Linked DNA regions of Homo sapiens. The protein of the gene in region 1 interacts with the protein of each later gene in a biochemical or structural test. Each region holds a gene or a part of one and is shown in the gene's direction. Other genes may lie near its edges.

The links. The genes of interacting proteins can lie anywhere in the genome.
Region 2: the proteins of NCOA7 (region 1) and AHR form a complex in vitro, tested with the Homo sapiens proteins (one study listed by BioGRID).

Annotation. Positions count from the first base shown.
Region 1 is NC_000006.12:125,786,117-125,794,099, forward strand, and holds the start of NCOA7 (nuclear receptor coactivator 7), read left to right. Parts: upstream 1-4,843; 5' UTR 4,844-4,951; exon of another isoform or gene 4,952-5,078; intron 5,079-7,983. UniProt on the Homo sapiens protein: Enhances the transcriptional activities of several nuclear receptors. Involved in the coactivation of different nuclear receptors, such as ESR1, THRB, PPARG and RARA.
Region 2 is NC_000007.14:17,294,651-17,301,799, forward strand, and holds the start of AHR (aryl hydrocarbon receptor), read left to right. Parts: upstream 1-4,001; 5' UTR 4,002-4,614; coding exon 4,615-4,679; intron 4,680-7,149. UniProt on the Homo sapiens protein: Ligand-activated transcription factor that enables cells to adapt to changing conditions by sensing compounds from the environment, diet, microbiome and cellular metabolism, and which plays important roles in development, immunity and cancer.

The DNA of each region.
Region 1 (7,983 bases):
ACTCTCTTCTGCCTCTTTAGTTGCAGGATGGCTACTCGTATCCCTCCACACATGATCATCAGTATTTGCCTCCTGTGTCCCAACCGGCCTGAGTCAAGTAAGTGTATGAAAAGAGGTGTTTCTCTCTGCGCTAGAGAAAGAAGGATAGGTTCACTAAAGAGTGAATTTTCTTGGTGCTAGTAGCCTAAGCTCATCACTTAATGCATAAAACTCCTCTCCCACAGCTTTTGAGAGACCTTCCAAAGACATTTCAATATTTTCAATAGCTCCAAGGTCATTACTTAACCAGTTTTGAAACTACACTCAAAACTTACAAATTTTGTTAAAGAGTAAGCAACTCCCAAATTCTCCTAAGTGACTTCATCCTGTTATTTATACATCACATATGTACATATACATTCCTATAATCAAGTAATTCTAAATTTGGGACAAAATATCATACACAATAATCATTGTCTTTTTTTTTTTTTTTTTTTTTGAGATGAAGTCCGGCTCCGTCGCCCAGGCTGGAGTGCATAAGCGCGATCTGAGCGCAGCGCAACCTCTCCCTCTCGGGTTCAAGTGATTCTCCTGCCTCAGCCTCCCAAGTAGGTGGGATACAGGCATGTGCCACCATACCCAGCTAAGTTTTGTATTTTTAGTAGAGACAGAGTTTCATCGTGTTGGCCAGGCTTGTCTCAAACTCCTGACCTCAAGTGATCCACCCTCCTCGGCCTCCCAAAGTGCTGGGATTACAGGTGTGAAAATAGGCCAGGCGCAGGGGCTCATGTCTGTAGTCCCAGCACTTTGGCAGACTGAGGCAGATGGATTGCTTGAGCCTAGGAGTTTGGGACCAGCCTGGGCAACATGGCGAAACTCCATCTCTACAAAAAATACAAAAATTAGCCGGGTGTGGTGGTACATGACTGTAGTCCCAGCTACTTGGGAGGCTGAGGTGGGAAGATCAATGGAGCTGGGAGTTGGAGGTTGCACTCTAGCCTGGGTGACCTAATGAGACCCTGTCTGGAAGAAAAAAAAAAAAAAACAGAAAAGAAAATACAGTAGAGCTCTAGATCAACCAGAGACTCAGGAGCCTTTCATTTGGGCAATGTTACAGCAATATTTGCCAATATTTTTAGAATTCTAGTTTCATGAGACATTACTAGTGTTGTATTCAAAAACAGAAATACTAATCATGCTTCTTCATTACAAGAATTGTCTTTAGATAGATAGGTAAGAAAAATACCGAACACATTTGCAGGATTGCCACTGTTTGGCAATGTTTCTCTAAGCCCGCCTACCTTAGCCCTCTAGAAAATCACTTGGGAGAAATCCTGTTGCCTGAACCCAGAGATCCAGCTGCCTCCCACAGGCTCAGCGAAACAAACAAATGGCGGAGTGAAGTGATCCCTCTCTTCTTCCTTTAAGAGAGGAAGGGATCTCTGCTTCTCTTATCTACTCCAAAGTCTCATCATACAAAGGTTGTTTATTCCTGCAAAAGTTAAATGACAAATCCACCTAAATTATCCTCCAATGGCCCATACCCTTCAACAGAGAAAGGCCAGTTTTCATATTTAAAGGTGGCCCTCACAGCCATAAAATCAGTGTGGTATTATATTTTTTCATTAATTCAGCATTTACCAAGTAACTTCCGCAGCCAAGAACAGTGAAAAGTGTTAGGGATACCATTTTTAAAAACTTTATCATAATAAAGTATATTATTCTAGTAATACCTTTGATTGATGGCCACATTCTAGACTTTAAGAACCACTTGGGATTATCTCCTTTAATTCCTATATCCACCCTATAAAGTTGGTACTGTTACCATTCTTTATGGATAAAGCATATCCTTTACGGATAAAGCAACTGAGGTTAAGTAGTTTACCCAAGGTCAGCACGTGGTGGAGCTGTAGTCTGAAGCCAGAGCCTGAATTCTTAAAGATTACCATGTTCTTAAGAAGTACACTTTCTACTGAGGTTTGATCTGTAGTATACTAAGATTTCCCAAATTATTTCATGTATTATATCTTATCTCCCAATTAAAATTTGACCTTCTATTTAGGGCAGCACTGTTCAAAAGGATTTTCTGCAATAATGAAAATGTTCTAGTTTGTGCTATCCAAAAGCACAGTCTAGCCATAATTTAAATTTAAACGGCTACAAGTAGCTAAGGCATACAGTACTGGACAACACATGCAAGGAAGAGTTTCATTTCTTCCGATTTATCTATAAAGCCAAGGCTTAGGTAAATCAGTTAATGGAAAGGAACAAGTGAAGAATCTTTAGGAGGAGTTTGTACTCCCTTAGCTGGGGAGCAGAAATCTTTATTATATCAGGACTTTCAGTATAATAAAAATGTTATAAGAAGCATATGATACAGCATGCAGTCCTAGAGGAGTTCATAAAGATGGATTCTTACATTCCTTGCAATATCTTTGGAAGACCTTTTTTTTTTTTTTGAGATGGAGTTTCGCTCTGTCACCAGGCTGGAGTGCAGTGGTGCAATCTCCGCTCGCTGCAACCTCTGCATCCCGGTTTCTAGTGAATCTCCTGCCTCAGCCTCCCAAGTAGCTGGGACTACAGGACCCACCACACCCAGCTAATTTTTTTTTTTTTTTTTGTATTTTTAGTAGAGATGCGGTTTCACCATGTTGGCCAGGATGGTCTCGATCTCTTGACCTCGTGATCCGCCCGCCTCGGCCTCCCAAAGTGCTGGGATTACAAGCGTGAGCCACTGCGCCTGGCCAGAAGACTGACGTTTTATAATTGATGGTCACAACTTTAAAAATTCATACTCAGTTATAGGTTTTTGTCTAATAAAAACATCACTGCTTAATTTATTTACAAAACATGGAGTCCATAGAGAGAAAAACAACAGGGGCCTCTTGATAGTAAAAGGATGAGAAACAGGGAAAACTTGTAAGTCAATGGACACTTCCTTCAGAAACTACATTCAAAACTTAAAAATTTTGTTAAAGAGTAAGCAACTGCCAAATTCTCCTAAGTGACTTCAACGTGTTACTTATACATCAGATATGTACATACATATTCCTATAATCAAGTAATTCTAAGTTTGGGAAAATATCATAAATAATAATAGTTATCTTTTGAAAATAAAGTGGGGCTCTAGATCAACCAGTGTCAGGAAGCAGCCAAGTCACACCCCACTGGGTGCTTCCTGGACAAGCGCAGTGCAGCTCCCACAGGGCCTCACACCCAACCTTCAATTTGCTTAAAAGAACTATCTCAAAAAATCTTAGCTATTTAGTCACAATTTGTCCTTGCCAGGGAACATGTTTTTCTTTTGCCTGATTTTCAATAACCTTAGATTGCAAAATCATAAAAGCACTCATCAAAGAACTGTGAGAGCAGCTCAGCTTCCCTGGAGATCTCAAACCATGTTCCTTTGATACAATGCAATCAGCTCTTTATACTTTAGGAACCTAATTTTCCCTTACTAAATGCTAAACAATTTACAAATAACACAATGGCTACAGAAAAAAAAAATCCAACATCTTTACATTCAAATCCCAAAGATATAAACCTGACGTCTAAATTAATACGTGCTTAGTGCAAAACTGGGCAATTATTCCACATTTGCAAGACAGTATAACATGACCACCTGCTGCTGAAATGCCAAAGCCACCACTGTTAACGCTTTGCTCCGCCTTCCAGAGAGGTTATTACAGCTTAAGCTGCGTCAACAACCCAGAGGAGGCTGCTATCTAGTTTATCTGTGTGGAAGGCCTGTAACACACTGTTAACAGAGTAGTTGCAGGCCCTTCCTTGGGATATTTTTCTGCGTATAAGAGTGAATGAACTCCACGGCCAGATCCTCCTAGTCATGTTGCAGTGCTGGTCATGGGACCGCAGAGGGAACAGCACCCAACTGGGGATGGGGAGCTCACAGGCACAGGCCCCGCAGCTGATGCAAACCTTCCCCCTCCAAGGTTCTCTCGAGTCTCTGCCAAGAGTCGGCTGGAGGGCCCAACTGCTATGTTCTTATTGCTGTAATGACTGCAATTTGGCAGCATCCAGGATGGTGTACCGGGAACGGGAGGGGGAAGGAGATGGTGGGCCCCTCTGTTAAACGCAACGCCAGAAGGGACACAGGATGAATTTATTGTGGCCATCGGTCCTGAGCTGGAAGGAAAGTCAAAGGGCTTTAAAGCTGGGGAAAAGCTCTAACTCCTGCTCTGCTGTCAAAGCCTTACTTCCCACGAAGAGTAGGGGCCAGGCGGGCCAACTGTAAGGGGGAAGCGGCCCGGGGTGAGGTAAGAGGACCCTCCTAGGTGCCGCTGCCAGGCGGCGGTTCGCTGGGGCAGCAAGGCGCCCGCACTCGGGAGGCGCCACAAAGGGCCGAGGCCTGCGGAGGCCGCACGCGCAGCTCTCCGGGGCGGAGCCGCCGGGATCGCGGCAGCGGAGGCTGCAGCAGCCGCGGGTAGCCGGGGTGCCCAGCCTCCCAGCTCGGAGGTCGCGGGGGGCGGGGAGGATGCCGCAACTGCAGTCCGAGCGGCAGAGCCCGGCGCGAGCTCCCAGGCCCCCGCAACCGCTGTGAGGCGCAGCGCGCGCCACTGGCCGGGAGGAGCTAGAGGCGGGCGTCTGCACAGCGTCGCGCCACCCGTGACTGCCCGCCTTCAGCCGGGCCCGGGACCCCGTAGCGGCCCATGCCCTGACGGGGGGCGCAGCTGCGGGGCTGGCGAGGCGTCGCGCGTGGGAAGAGGCCTAAGACACCCCGACTGCGGCGGCTGCGCACACCCGATCCGGACGCGGGGCCCCGCGGGCGCGCGCCTCGGAGCTCCCGCCTCCTCCTCTTGCTCCTCCTCGGCGTACGGTCCTCCCCTGACCCCTCCTTCCACCCGCCGAGAGGATGCGCTCCCCGGCGCCCAGCAGCAGAGGCCACCGCTCCCAGAAATGCATGCGACCGATCCCCTTCTCCCGGACCCCAGGAGCCGGCGCCCCCGCCCTGTAGGTAGGTGGTGAGGCGGGGCCCAGCCCTCGCCGCCGCCCGCCGCTGATGCTGCCGCCGAGAGGCCGCGAGCAGGGTCCAGGACCGGCCAAACTTGCCTCCCGCCGGGGGCTCGGTGGAGCGCTCGGAGGTGTGCTAATGGCGCTGGGCGTAGCCCCCTGTGAACCTGAAAACCTCTGCTTGAGCTCGGGAGGCCGAGCGGGGGCGAAGGAGAGATTGACCCTTCCCCGCCCACCCCTTGGGGGGCTCGTGGGGGTGCGCGCCAGTACGAGAGTGGGGAGGACAGGTTGGCATGGGGCTTATTTGGGGAGAAGACCGTTGGATTTTCAGCAGCTCAGGTGGAAATATGTCACTGTGTTTTTCCGGCTGGATTAGCAGATGCGTTCTTCCCATCTTTCTAGCCAAAACATGTAGACAGGCAAAGGGTTATTAGTGGCATGTAGAAGTCGCTGTGGATTTTTGTGTATTTCAGAGCTAGCTAGTTGGTATATAAAATCGATGGGGCAAACCCTTACCGTCAACACGTTAGGGCCAATTTAGAGAAGGTCCTTCTAGAAGTCAGATTATTCTGGAGATCGATGAGGCTGGGATATTGTTGTGCTGAGTATTTAGGAGCCTCTGCTTACGTGAAGGGATGTGTTTTAAGAGTGGCAACTTTGATACAGGTGTCGGGAGTTGAGATTCTGCTGGAAAGATGTACCGGGTCAGCCAGCAGAGGCAGCCTTGTGCCCAGCCTAACTTCCAACTCGATGTTATGCTCTGTATTTCTCAGAAACTGGTTATGTATTAATGCTTTTTTTCTCCTCTAGGTGTAAAGTTTATACATCAGAGCTTTTGGCAAGATTCCCTCTTCCCAGACTATCATTTTTTATTTTATATTCAGCAATAAGGCTTAAAGTTTTGAAAAATGCATCACTGTAAGCTCCAATTTTATAGTCACTTAGGTATAGAGATTTGGAGAAGTGACTCAGTATAAGCTCAAATAGGACAGAATCTTGAATCTGTTTTTTTTTAAATCCTGTAATCTTCTGCATCTTATGCAGAATAAGTACCCATTAGTTATTTGTTGAATGAATGAACTGTGTTTCAAGCTTTCATCTAAAAACCACAATTTAGAATCACAGAATTGTTCTGTAGCCGGTGAAATTTAATTGAATTTCAAAAATTGCCTCTTTGTATAAATAGGCAAACTCAGTTATTTTAACATTTATATTTCAATTCTGACATCTTTAGGACCATATGCTATCTTTCTGTAATATGTCATCAAGGTTATGAGGTAATTCTCCCCAACTCTTAAGTTCATTTCATGTCTAAGCTTGCAAAATTTCCAGTCTCACTGGTAATCATGCCAACTTCAACTGTGCTCTCAAACACAATTTAAAAAGTAAAAGTCGTGTTTTAAAGAAAATTGTAAGTTACGCCAGAGGAAACAATGATTTGGTTAATAAGTGATGTATTCACTTATTTTAGAGTTGAGTTTTTCAGGTTTGATCTAATTATCATGTCTTTTATCACAGGCAAAAGTAGAAATAAAACATGTAGAAGTGTCTGTGATTCTTAAATGATTCAAAATGTGTGATATAGATACACAATTTAAACTGTTTTCTCCTCGGTATAGAAACACATCAGTTTCCAAATTTGACAGCCAGGGGATTGTGAAATGAGGGTTTGCAAGATACAGTGTCTTCCTGCTTTAAAATGTTATATCATTTTGAAAAAAAAAAAGAAAAACAAGGTTAACTGCATCAAACTTTATTTGCTTTATTTTTACACTATGACATTTTCTGTTTTGATTTCATCTTTTTTCCATCACATGAATTTCATGAGTCAGTGTGAACTTCTTTCAGTCTCTGCTTAACAATATTATCTGGGCATGCTCCCAGGTTTTCTTTCTGACATTTTAATGCATCTTTACCATCTTCACTTCATATTACTCAAATGACTTATTTTTACACAATATGGTAGGCCATACTTTATTACTATTGCTTCTCCAACCTACTTATTTTCTTCCTAGATGGATAAGGAAATAAAACTTTCCTATAAAAGTTAATAAGACTGCAGGAACCAACAGTGGGAGGGAACTTATGAAAAAAATTAATTTGTTATGATTTATTAAAACAAAGCCAAAATTCCCTCCTGTAATAAAGATAATTACATTTTACACTTCTTAAATTTGTAACCCAGGGTATTGAGCAATTAATTTACCTGGCTCTTCCTTGCACACTTTAAGCTTTTCAAAAAAGCCCTCCCCTTTGGTTACAGTAAGCTCTCTTTACCTTGTTACTTATAAGCACTTATTTGTTCATTTTACAAGTAGGAGTTGAGCCTTTAACTGCTCAGTTTAACTGCTATTACTTTGGCTTTGGAATCACAGTCAAATAAAAGCTCTAATCTCAGATTTGAAGAGGTATTTTTCTCTTCTGTGTGTCCTACAACCAAATGCGCAGTGCCTCTGGGATTGGTTGACTCACTTTTGGGTCCTACCTCCTGATCCCCCAGCACTCCGCCCCCACAAGCACCACCAGAATGCAATCCAAGACCTGGATTTCCTCTCTTTATCTTCCTAAAGGCTGTATTTTAGAAACCTCTATTCCTTTCTTGCTAAATGCCATTTACTATTGTTTTTAAAATCCCAGCCCATAATTTTTTGTTTGTTTAAATTCAACAGGATCCACTCAATTCACTTGTGCTAAAATCAGAATTGTTGATTGCAGAAAAAAATATACAGAAGTAAATTTGTATGACCTTGAATTTCAGATATAGTGAATACATAAAGAGTGATTGTTGTCTACTGGTCTCCCCTCAACAGTGATACAAAATGCATTTGTTTCTGTACATGCCAGAGAATATGAATTTTCTGTTGCTAAATTTGATCAGAAGCTTAATTGAGAGAAATGATGTTTACGGGGGGTTGGCTGAACAAAGGCCATGACGTCAACCTATTCCCTTCCAATACTAGCTGTTAGACCAGAAGTCTAGCCAGATCTTCAGAAGCTGTACTTTGGTACCTTGTTTTGCATCCTTAACACCCCCCC
Region 2 (7,149 bases), on another chromosome or scaffold:
TTTTATAACTTTCCCCATAATCAAACTTCAAATTCGTAAGAATTAAAAGTCCGGAAAGAAAGAAATCGAAATCCAAACTTACTGCATGTTAACATTTTAATAATGTACTTTCATGTGTTAAAAACCTAAATGTTTCTTGCAACAAAGCATTATCCATAAGTGAATAAAAATAATTTTGACTAATAACAAATTATTCCTATCTTGTAGTTTCTTTGTCAGAATTAAGATTAGCATTATCTATTAATTACTTCTCTGTGGCTTCTATGACATTGTTGTATCCAAGCAAGTAAAGAAGACATTAAGCATTTAGAAACAGCCCTTAGATGTCTATGTCTGTTCTTCAGTGTTAGGAGTAAAAGCAAGCAATGTGTAAACTGATTATTTTTAATAAATGAATCAGAACAGTTCAAAGTCAGATAAGTTATACATTTTAGACTGGGGCAGAAGTCACAAGACCCAGATTCTAGGCTATGATTAGCAGGGCACTTGATCTCTCTGGGCCTGAAGTTTCTCACCTGTTAAATGAAGGATTTAGTTATGCCAAAGGTCCCAAACTTTCTCAGTTCACAGCATTCCTAGTGTCTCAGTAATTTTTTCATGGTGTTGCAAGCTAAAAGAAACACCTAACAGTTCCATTTATTAAACAGTTAAACCCAAACTTATGTTTGTCTATCCTAACAACTTAGTAGCTATTTAAAAAATAATATACATTAACATTTTTTATTCTTAATGGGATGTGCACATCTGTTGGGCACTTCATAACTTCTCAAACTTAGGAATAAACTTGGAAACCGCTACCCTCATTCCTGTTCTACAGTAATTTTCCCATAGTCCTTGTGTTTTATTACAGCAATTTACAAAAACACAGCCTCACAAAGATACGATGTCAAAAGGAATGAAGTACAATTTAATGTGTAGAAGTTCTGAACTACCTCAAGATAGTGGTTTGCACGGTGTCCAACTGATGTCACTGTGTTGGCCTTGAAAATTTAAAATATCCCATGATAGTGCCCCTGTGAGTTTGTTGTGGTGCTCCTGGGGTGCCTCAGTACATAGTTTAGGAAGCATGGACTACCCTCTGTAAAATACTTCATATAGCTACAATGTGTGTTGTAAACTGTAAAAGACAATTCTGAGGGCCTGAAGTAAGGAGCTGCAGAATTGAAGAGGAGATTAAAAAGTGATACATGTTCAGTCTGCATGAAATTCCCCTTCCTCCCCAGGTCACCTATAAAATGCCTACCTATGCCTACCTATAAAATGCCTACCTATGCCTCAAAACTCAGCTCAAGCTCCCTCAGGGAGGTTACCAAGTTACCCTTACCAAGTTAAATCCACCTATTATACATTCTCACAGTATTCATTTCACAGTACTTGTCCCAGTTGTAATTATACATTCATTTGTGTAACTATCTGGTTAATTCTTGTCTCTCTCATTAGAATGTAAGCTCTAAGAGGAAAGAACATGTCTGATATCACTACTGTAACCCACAGTGTCTGGTATATTATAGGGGCTAAAATCTTGCTTAGTGAAATGAACTGTGATAGAATAGGTTTAGCATTCATTTTGATTATTTTCCTTTATTCAAGAACAGCTGATATTTATAATAGCATTCCTAAAACATTTTTCTCATACTATTTCGCAGGAGAAAGAAACCCATACACATACAGCTGCATCTGAAACCTCAGAAACTAAGCTCAACCCAATTGATTAAAAGGATGTTCTTTGGATAAGGTAATCAAATGTTCACCGACTCTTATAGCCAAATTAATTATTATGAGATAAAAATCACGTAACTACAAAAAAAAAAACTGCTCACAAAAAAGTTTTTAAATCTTAGCAGATGGACACAAACCATACTTTGAGAACCATGTTCCACAGTGCCAATACAGGAAGTTTCTAGATAATGGCAGCTCATTTTTTAAAAATGGCACTACACTATACTGTATTCACATGCCAGCAAAACTGTTAAGGTAAGTTCATGTCACTATTAAAATAAAATGAATTCTGGGAATTTTGTTGATATTCAATTTTAATCTTAATTATGCAAAGATCTGTTACTTAACTAAGACTATGTAACATAATATAGCATATGACTTCTGGATAATGAAAATAATCCTAAACTTAACCATAAAAAAATAAGGGTATGAAAGTCAAAATAAGGTAGAAAATGACTGCACCAAATAGCCAACAACCTTAAAAAGGGTAGGATTTTTTTAAATCACTAAATTAAGATTGGTTCATTGCATTTAGTACATCTCTTTTATGAAGAGGAGTTATAAGCTACAGAATCAATAAATTATGTTTTGATATAAATTTTTCACCCTTAAAGTTCCTAGCTAGGAGGAAATTATTCTTTTACACTTACACGTTTTAGATAGAATGGCTATAAGTAAGCACAGATAAATGAAGAAATGAAAGAGAAGGGAAAAATAGAGATGGTTGATTCTGCCTCTGCAATTGCTAATTCATAAACATCAAACTTTCCCAGTGTACACTGTCTTCTTTGGGAATTTGCTCCATCTTTTTCCTTAAACTGAAAGGTGGCTTACTGAGGCTATCACTTTCCTAAAGGTCTCCCCAATACTGCCTAATTATTTTCTCTTATCACAGGATACAGGGTGGATGTCCATCTACTTCCTTGTTGTCACTTCCCAGATCACTTTCACTTTATGCTCTTCTAAAATTAAAACAAAGATCATCGACCACAAAACACAATTGTTCTTTTGTAGCTCATGCTAGAATACCCTCTTTGTTACATCTCCTTCATTTTTCTGATCCAAAATTTAGTAGCCTACTATATCTCACCCACTGTCCTTCTTTCCTCCAGCTATGGTAGAGAACTGCTCCTCCAACTTTATGTACATTTGAATCACCTGGGAGTTCCTGTGAACTTCGGGTTCTGATTTAATAAGGACACCCAAAGAGTCTGCATTTCCTGTAACTCTCAAAAGAAGCTGTGGAGTACTCTGAATAGCAAAGCACTGTAAGTGCTGTTTCTGTTAGTATCTAATCTATTAGTCCTAATCTCCCATTTATGCTTTGGCACTCATTCCCTCCTGCTTTCGGTATCTTAATATCTATCATTCCTTCACTCTTCCCTCAGGTTCCCTACATAGTTTATCTCTACCCCCTCTAAGCCGCTCAGTATCGCCCATTAAAGAACTAAACCAAAACTAGAAAACCCTCATTTAACCCTTCACTCCCCCTACATACAATCTGATGTGTCTCTCATCCACAGCTAAACTTGGAAGAAAAATTGCCTGCTTGAGGATGCCATTTTGTTATCTTCAGCTCAATCCTGTACCCACTTCAATGTTATTTGCAGGCCCATTACCCCAACACTGCATTCACGAAAGTCATCAGTGACTACACATTGAGAAAACAAGAATGACATTTTCAGTTCTCAACTAATTTGAATTTCTCAACAGTATTCAATATTGTTAATTACTCCCAATATTTTTCCACATGGTCCTCCATGACACAATACATAATAGTCCCCTTATTATCTATATTCCTGTCTATTGTAAAGACTTCCCCCGCACACCAAAAAAGGTCAAGGAAACTCCTAGCCTTCAAGTCTCAACTCAAATCTGGCCTTCTGAAGCCTTCCCAACTAGGAAAATATACAGTCCCATTGGTTGTCTACCAGTTGTCTACCAGTTAATTGTAATTCTTAGCCACAAGTTAGCTGACCCACCGTCTCTCAAACAGGTGAAGTTAAGCTCAATATTTGGCATATCTTGATATACTTTGTACAGTCTAGCTACAATAAGTTTGCCTATGCACGAAGATGGCTACCGGCGGGGGGGGGCGTCCTTACGTCCTACGTCATCACGTGCCGGGATGAGGGTGGGGCCCTCAAGGAAGACGGAATGGAATCCAGATGGGCGGGGGCAAGCAGGACGGGGCGGGGCTACGCGGGATCTGGGCGGGGCGGGGCCGGTGAGGGGTCGGGGGTGCTCCTGCTATTCAGCCGGTGCGCGCGGCGGCGGGAGGCAGTGGCTGGGGAGTCCCGTCGACGCTCTGTTCCGAGAGCGTGCCCCGGACCGCCAGCTCAGAACAGGGGCAGCCGTGTAGCCGAACGGAAGCTGGGAGCAGCCGGGACTGGTGGCCCGCGCCCGAGCTCCGCAGGCGGGAAGCACCCTGGATTTAGGAAGTCCCGGGAGCAGCGCGGCGGCACCTCCCTCACCCAAGGGGCCGCGGCGACGGTCACGGGGCGCGGCGCCACCGTGAGCGACCCAGGCCAGGATTCTAAATAGACGGCCCAGGCTCCTCCTCCGCCCGGGCCGCCTCACCTGCGGGCATTGCCGCGCCGCCTCCGCCGGTGTAGACGGCACCTGCGCCGCCTTGCTCGCGGGTCTCCGCCCCTCGCCCACCCTCACTGCGCCAGGCCCAGGCAGCTCACCTGTACTGGCGCGGGCTGCGGAAGCCTGCGTGAGCCGAGGCGTTGAGGCGCGGCGCCCACGCCACTGTCCCGAGAGGACGCAGGTGGAGCGGGCGCGGCTTCGCGGAACCCGGCGCCGGCCGCCGCAGTGGTCCCAGCCTACACCGGGTTCCGGGGACCCGGCCGCCAGTGCCCGGGGAGTAGCCGCCGCCGTCGGCTGGGCACCATGAACAGCAGCAGCGCCAACATCACCTACGCCAGTCGCAAGCGGCGGAAGCCGGTGCAGAAAACGTGAGTGTCCCGAGCGCGTCCTCATCGCGGGGGCTGGGCGCTCAGGCACGCGGGTGCGGGAGGCAGCCCCACCCCGCCCCCAAATCCCTGCGATCCTGGGATTAGGTCCATTCCCGGCACTGCCCGTGGAATCGAGGTTTGGAGGCCGGCTGGGAGACAGAGGACTTGGATTCTCCCGTTTTCAATGATTGCATTTTAAAAATTGTCCTCCCACCCATCCTCTTCCCCCGCACCAGTGCATACACACCCTCTCACATTTGCAACTTTGTTCTTTCTGATTTGGTCCTGATTTGTTGACAGCTCTGATCTGCCTTGGGCTAATGGATTAGTTAGTATAAACCTGTCTTGAAATCTCCTTCCACTTTTCATATCCGCATGGGTTAGGTTAGAGGACGGTCTTAATTCTCATTCTTCGTAGAGTTTGGTAAGGCGAGATGTTTTAAAGAGCTAAACACATGCTGACTTTTACGAAGGGGCTGAGTGCCTCTAAAGGTACTTTTTGGTCCCCACCAACTGGCTTTGTGTTGCGCTCATATTTACTTATTTGGCAGCAATTTTGTAGCGCTCATCGTGACCATATCGGTAAAGTGGATAGAAGTGGTAGCAGGTGGGAGTGGATGCAACGGACAGGATACGGTGGAGGATTTGTATTCTTCAGACATCTTTTTCGGAAGCTTGCTTATCACTTTTGGGGTGGCTTTAGGGTCTGTAAAATAAAAGATTTAGAACTGCATTTGAGAGAGGTTTTCATTCTTAACATCTACCTCTAATTCTTTTCCCCTTCAAAGTTTTCTTCTAGTTGAGTGAGTACAAACTTGCTTTTGTCGTTGTCGGTTGATTTTGGTGGAATATTTGTGTGAGATGGCCAATTTTTTGTGTGTGTCAGAAAAAACTATCCGTGCTCAAAACATTTCCTGTTGTGAGGTGGTTGTATTCATGTGTTTATTCCAATTTTTTTATTTCTAGATCTCTGAGTTACTTTACCTACATGTGTTTCAAGTTTTCGTAAACAATTTTAAGAACTCTTAAACGTCTTCTCAGACCAAATCAGAAGTGTGCATTTTGCTTAGACTCCAACTATCACTAATGGGAACCAGAAAAATAACACTTTAAGATTTACATTTAAAACCAGTTATTGGTTTAAAGTTTCATTCTAAAATTTTAGTTTCCTTTCAGAATTTCAGTTATCATAGTTCTTCAGAAGTATACTTATGAATTGGCATTAACAGAGGATAATAATCTATAAATAGACTGATGAAAATTTGGAAGTTTTATGGTACAGTGTGTCTTAAGGGAATATTGTCAAACCAGCAGTTTTCTACCTTGGCAGTTTGAGACATCGGTTATTAATACTTTTAATTTTGTAGAATGGTTTCTTATATTAAAGTATGTTTGTCTTATTTGACATTGTCATTGATGGTTAAAGTTGGGAGGCATCCCAAATGTCTGTTCTATGTGTTTATTAATATAATAATACACTTAGCATCATATATAATAGGGGTGTCATGGGTTTTATGTGTATGGTGAGAAAACATGAAGATCTCCCTGATGTGTTTTTAAGATACTGGGTTTCAGTTAGGGTGTTATCAAAGGACCTGGATGGCTTTGTAAACAAAAACAAATGCCATAATTTTGTATTCATTACACAGTTTAACATTTATGGATTTTGGTTATTTTGCGTAAAATGTACTTTTTATTAGATTATCCTAATATTATACTTACTTAGTTTTTAATATACTTGTATTAATTTCTTATAATATAACAAAAGTATTTTTTCCATTCACCCACATTTTGTTAGCATAGATGTTTATCAGATCTCTGCTGAGCACCGTATATTGCTTCTAATCATACAGATGCCTTAAATATTACCAGCTTGCTCTGTAAGAATAGGCTAGTGCTGGCATTTTCATTATCAAGTGAAAGTGTTTATATAAATTATTTTTACCTGAATGAAAAATTGTTAACTTTATAATGCAGTTAATCAAAGTTTATTTTAGAAATGAAGTCATTAAACCTAGTATTAAATTTGAGTTTTAAAATTAAACTACCAGTTTGTGGCCTAATGAGCCCCAAAACATGCCAACATTGGGGAAAATAGATCTTGTTTTGAGCTGAAAATGCTATCCAGACCTACTTAACTTTGACCTCTTAAATGAGAGCCATTTTATTTTATTTACAGATAAAATATGCTGTAGCATTATTATAGGACTGTTTAAAAAGACAGCCAATTAAATATAAATTTTATGGAATATAAGTATTCCATAAAATTTTGGAGTAAAGTAGGTGACAATTGTAACCTGAAGCTCTTTCAATCTTGAGTTGAATTTATTAAGAAAAATCAACCCCCCCTAGTGGCGGCTCTCACATTGAAAATTATCTTTATTAGTAGGAAATACATTTTAAATGTGTTCAATTTAATCCCACTGAAGTATCTCCAACATAGTAGACTCTCAATAAATATTTCCTTTCT